Regions from separate parts of the Homo sapiens genome. Here region 1 is linked to region 2. Evidence: fine-mapped expression QTL. A gene starts in region 2. The other region holds a variant in brackets. All regions are shown on one strand. Distances are from middle to middle.

Evidence for each region.
Region 1: its variant is fine-mapped to the expression of ZC3H3 in whole blood (INTERVAL, PIP 0.98).

What each region holds. Positions count from the first base shown.
Region 1 is chr8:143,460,097-143,463,007 of GRCh38, forward strand. All of the region lies in intron 9 of ZC3H3 (zinc finger CCCH-type containing 3), which reads right to left. Among named protein-coding and RNA genes, the nearest start is that of MAFA, 31 kb to the left of the region's middle. RefSeq lists enhancers at 1,787-1,896, 1,860-2,573, 2,257-2,326, 2,347-2,516, 2,574-2,911. The variant G/A (reference allele first, on the strand shown) is at 1,710.
Region 2 is chr8:143,540,006-143,542,916 of GRCh38, forward strand. It overlaps ZC3H3 (zinc finger CCCH-type containing 3), which reads right to left and starts at 1,442. Exons shown (of 12, transcript NM_015117.3): 1 at 1,371-1,442. The coding sequence starts at 1,416. It also overlaps the pseudogene RN7SKP175.

The DNA of each region.
Region 1 (2,911 bases), 80 kb before region 2:
TTAGCTGGGTTTGGTGGCACATGCACCTGTAGTCCCAGCTACTTGGGAGGCTGAGGCAGGAGAATCACTCGAACCCGGGAGGCGGAAGTTGCAGTGAGCCGAGATCATGCCATTGCACTCCAGCCTGGGCGACAGAGTGAGACTATGTCTCAAAAATAAATAAATAAATAAATAAATAAATAAATAAATAAATAAAAGGCATCCCAATTGAAAAGGAAGAAGTAAAATTATCTGTTTGCTGATGACATGATCTTATATGTAAGAAAACCCTAAAGAATCCACACACAAAAAAAGTTAGAATAAAGAAATTCAACCACAACAAGTGGTGGGGAGGGTGTGGAGAAACGGGAACCCGTGCGCCGTTGCTGGGAACGTAAAGTGGTTCAGCCACAACAGAAAACACTTGCCGATTCCTCAGAAAGCTAAACACAGAATTACTCAGACTCCAGCAATTCCACTCCTCAATATACACCCAAAGGAAGTGAAAGCGGGGCTCAAACAGATACCTGGCTGTCAGGAATCACTACAGCACCAGTCACAGTAGCCACATAACCACCAGCACACGAAGGAACTAACAAAACGCAGTGCACACACAACGGAATGTTACTCTACCATAAGAAAGGAATGAGGTGCTGCTACACGTGTGAACCCTGGAAACATTATGCCGGGTGAAAGATGCCAGACACCAAAGGACAGATGCTGGATGATTCCACTGACGGGACACAGCTAGACCCTGGAAACATTACGCTGCGTGAAAGACGCCAGACACCAAAGGACAGAATGTACGATTCCACTTAGAGGACATAGCTAGAGGAGGCGCCTTCACTAACTAGTTAGGTGTCTAACTAGGGTTTGGGAAGCGGGGAGTGGAGAGTCATTGCTGAATACTCAGTGTTTCTGTCAGGAGTGAGGAAAACATTTTGGAATGTTTCCACGGTGTTGTGAATGTAGTTAGCTATTGAACTAAGTGCCATTTTGACGCTTAAAAATGGTCAAAATTTATGTTATATATATTTTACCACAATTAAAAAGTAACACAGTATATACCAAAAACTATTGAATTGTACACTAAAATGGGTGAATTATGTGGTACGTGAATCATATCTCAACAAAGCTGTTTTTCAAAAAAAGATAGGAATGGCCCATAAGCACCCAGGTGCTCTGCGCATCCAGGCCATCAGGGAAATGCAAACCAAAACCCCAGGGATACGGCACGCCACGCCCACCAGAACGGGTGTGCCAGAAAGGCAGATACCCAGAGCTAGCGAGGAAGTAAGCAAGACGAAAGCCTTGCTCGCTGCCGGCAGGAGTGTCAAACAGTGAAGCCGTTTTAGAAAACAGGAGGCTGTTAACCTAGAGTGACCCTGTAGCCCTGCAGTGACCCTATGGCCCTGCAATTCCACTCCTAGGTGTCTACCCAAGAGAAGCAAAAGCATCGGCCACACAAAGGCTGGAGCGCGGACATTCGAGGCAGTATTATTCACGACAGCCCCCAACTGGCAACCACCCGAACGGACAAAGAAAGTGTGGAGAGCCTCTGCAGCGGCTTGACTCTGTAATAAAAACGGGTGCAGCGCTGAGGTGCTGCAGGACAGACCTCCAAACATGATGCAAAATCAAAGATGCCAAACAACCATGTACTGTATGATTCCAGCAACACGAAAGGCCCACAGAAGAAACTTACCGAGACAGAAGTGGATGAGTGTTAG[G/A]GGCCGGGACTGATGATGAAAAGAGTGAGGGAATTCTGGGGGGCGATGAAAACAACTGAAAGCTGCGCTGTGGTGCAGCTGTACCACTCTAAGTTTACTCAAACCCACAGAACCATACACCTAGAGCAGAGGAATTGTGTGGGAGGGAAACTGTACTTCAGTTAAGCTGCTTTTTTTTTTTTTTTAAAGCTGACACCACAGATCAAAGGGTTAGATCACCGTTGAGGGAAAGCACCCACGACATGAAGAAAAACTAAGTGAGGCCCCACCTCACACAACACGCAAATGAAGAACAGCAAACGGCAGCCGACTTGTAGGGAGGCCTCCCTGTGCCAGGGCCACCCAGGACACTGCCAGGCCCACTGTGGCCCCCTGAAGAGTCGCCACGACCCTCTGAGATAGGCAGTGCCGTTATCCCGACTGTATATAAAAGGAGACTGAGGCCAGAGGAGGAAGTAACCGTGCAGGGACAAGCGACACCCACAGCTGCCTCTTGAGCCAGCATCAGGCAATGCAGGAGGCACTCTGTGACCATGGGTGGAGACTGGTCCTAAACAAGACCCCGAGCACAAATCACAGGGCAAAGGATGTCAGGACCTTGCCTCATAAAGGACGAAGGATTCGGCCTAACAAAGGGCAGCACTGGCGAAAGCAAGGCACCAACAGAGAAGCGCTGTATGTGAACAAAACCAAGACAGGCGCTGTCCAGAGGACACAGGAGCCCTTGCAAGCCTGGAGGATGAAGGCAGGGTGTGCGTGAGGGGAATCCCAGGTGACTCAGGTCTCAGCTCGCACTTGGGGAGCTGAAACCCAAGGCTCAGCCAGGGCCTTCCCTCTCCCGACAGCTCCCTGCAGACAGGCACCAACCACACACAGGGTGTGGGGAAAACGGCAGCGCGGAGGCTCACGGAGCAGGCACTGCAGATGCAGGAGGGCCAAGGTGTGCAGGAGCTCTCAATGCAGAGGTGGGGATGGAGTCACTGTCACCCCTGCACACGTGCACACGATGCTCCCCAGCCCTGTGCACTGGGGGCGCTGGCAGCAGCCAACACCCTAGCTGCAACAAGCACACGCAGCGCCCAGACCCTGAGTCCTAAACACACCCAGAAGGAACCAGGGCGCCCTGCAGGAGCAGCTGTCCCACCTAGAGCCACCAGGAGCAGCGCCCAGACCCTGAGTCTCTTTTTTTTTTTTTGAGACAG
Region 2 (2,911 bases):
TATCAGCATTCCCCCACCACAGGCCCTGCCCCCGGGGGCACAGAAAGCCACGTCCAGACGTGTTGACGCCCCAGAGCAGGTGTGATGGGAGCTCAAGAAGTGTCCCCAAGTGGGAGGCAGCCCACCTGGCCTCTTATCCATACACACTTTCCCAATCCTTAAGTCTTCCCTTTGTGAGAGTAAAAGCAAAAAGGATTTTTAATTTTTAAAGCTTTTTTTTGTTTGGTTGGTTTTGGCTTTTTATTTGAGATGTGGTTTTTCTCTGTTGCCCAGGCTGGAGTGCAGTGGCCCAATCACGGCTCACTGCAGCCGGGACCTCCAGGGCACAAGCAAACCTTCCACCTCTGAGTAGCTGGGACTACAGGCGCAAGCCACCACGCCCATCTCACTTTTTAAAATTTTTCTGTAGAGACGGGCTCTCGTCATGTTGCCCAGGATGGTCTCAAACTCCCGGGCTCAAGCCATCCTCCTGCCATAGCCTCCCAAAGTGCTGGGATTACAGGTGTGGGCCACTGCGTCCGAACATGGATTTTCTTTTTAAGTTTAGAAAGACCAATTTGGGTTTTTTAATGTTTAAGTGTGGAAGCTGAAGCCTGTTCAGTCTGCGCCTGGAATGGCAAGGGGAGTGTGACTGTTCGGAGAAAAGGGGCATCAAAACCGGGCGTCGAGGCTGGGAGCGGTGGCTCATGCCTGTAATCCCAGCACTTTGGGAGGCCGAGGCGGGTGAATCACCTGAGGTCGGGAGTTAGAGACCATCCTGGCCAACATGGTGAAACCCCGTCTCTACTCAAAATACAAAAATTAGCCAGGCGTTCTGGCGCCTACCTGTAATCCCACGTACTCCGGAGGCTGAGGCAGGAGAATCACTCGAACCCAGGATGAGGAGATTGCAGTGAGCCGTGATCGCGTCACCGCACCCCAGCCTGGGTGACAGAGCAAGACTCTGTCTCAAAAAAAACCGGGCGTCAAGGAAGGAACCCGCGTGCGCCCTTAGCCTGCTCTGCCGAAATGAGCCATGAACTAGTCCCAGCCCCGCAGTGGGGCGCGGGGAGAGAGTGGGCGCCGGGGGACGCGACAGCCCGCGGTGGTGGGGAGGGCCGCCGCCCCCCGCGGGTTACTAAGCGACGGCCCTGCCTCCACCCTCTGCAGCCCCAGCAGGGCCGGCACCACTCCCTCGACAAAGCTGGAGCCGGGGACTGACCCGGGCCCTGAGCCGGCCCACAAGTCCTGGCGGACCCTACCGTCCCCCACCCCAGCCGCCACCCAGAACACGCGGGCGGTGAGCGACCCCTTCGACAAGGGGGCAGGGGACCCGCCGCGAGGTGAGGGGGAAAGAAGGGGACTCGCGTCCCGGCCCCGGCCGGACCTACCCTGCAGTAGGCGGATCTGCCGCCGTAATATCTCCTTTTCCTCCATCTCCCGAGTCCGCGACGGCCGGCCAGGCCCCCACGACGTCATCGCTACGCGACCTTTTTCCCGCGGGCGGGGCGGAGCGGGCCAGGGCGGAGCTGCCAGGAGCAGGCCCGGATGTCTGCCGACCGCCGAGGACCCGCCGTCGCGCTGACAACGGCAGCGGAGAGGCAGAGCCGCGCACGCGCAGAACGAGGCGGGGACGTCACTAGTGAGCGCCGGGAAGTGGCCTGGTAACGGCTGGGAAGGGACTGCTTGGGCTCTGGGAGGCCGCGCGGGCCCAGCTTGTGCAGTCCGGGATCGCGTCCCCTTGGGAGACTTGGCGAGGGGCGAGACCTGGGGCCCACCCAGCCCATACCGCAGTTCCTTCCCACAGTCCCTGCGTTTCATTTCGCCCCAGTTGAGTGTTGGGGGGGGGGGGGTCTACGCGGGGACCCATGGGAGAAGGGCCAGTTAACAATTACTCTTGACCCAGGAGGGTCTGTGAAACCTCTTACTGTGGCCAGAGGAGAAGACATCGGAGAGCAAGGTTCCCTGGATAGACATGTTGAACCTCTGAAAACATGAAAGTTTTTAGTTCGTCATTGGAAACATGTACAAGTGTAAACCTCTGTGCGCTGTTGGTGGGAATGTAAATGGCGCAGCACCGCAGAAAACTATGGAGATTCCACAAAAGGTTAAAAGTAGAACTACCGGATATGAGGGCGATCTGGCTGCGACACCTGTCATCCCATTGATCGCCAGGGTTGATTCGGCTGATCTGGCTGGCTAGGCGGGTGTCCCCTTCCTTCCTCACTGCTTCATGTGCGTCCCTCCCGAAGCTGCAGCTCAGTCGAAGAGAACGACCATACCCAATAGAAGAGCTGGGCTTCCCTGGTAGAACCTCCAAACAAGCTCTCAAGGTCCATTTGTAGGAGAAGGTAGGGTAGTCAAGATTCCAGACACATCCAAATGAGGCGCTGCATGTGGCAATCTGCCTTTCTAGGAGAAAACAAAAATGGAACTACGGTATGATCCAGCAACCCTACTTCTGGCTATATTCCCAAAAGAATGGAAACCAGAGACTCAAACATATTTGTGCCCCCATGTTCACTGCAGCATTTTTCCCAATAGCCAAAAGACGGAAACAACCCAAGTGTCCACGGGTGGATGGAAGGATAAACAAAATGTGATCCATACAAACAATGAAATATTTTTCAGCCTTAAAATGGAAGGAAATTCGGCCGGGCGCAGTGGCTCACGCCTGTAATCCTAGCACTTTGGGAGGCTGAGGCGGGCGGATCACGAGGTCAGGAGTTTTGAGACAAGCGTGGTCAACATGGTGAAACCCCGTCTCTGCTAAAAATATAAAAAATTAGCCAGGCGTGGTGGCGCACACCTGTGGTCCCAGCTACTCAGGAGGCTGAGGCAGAAGAATCGCTTGAACCCAGGAGGCGGAGGTTGCAATGAGCCAAGATCAAGCCACTGCACTCCAGCCTGGGCGACAGAGCTAGACTTTGCC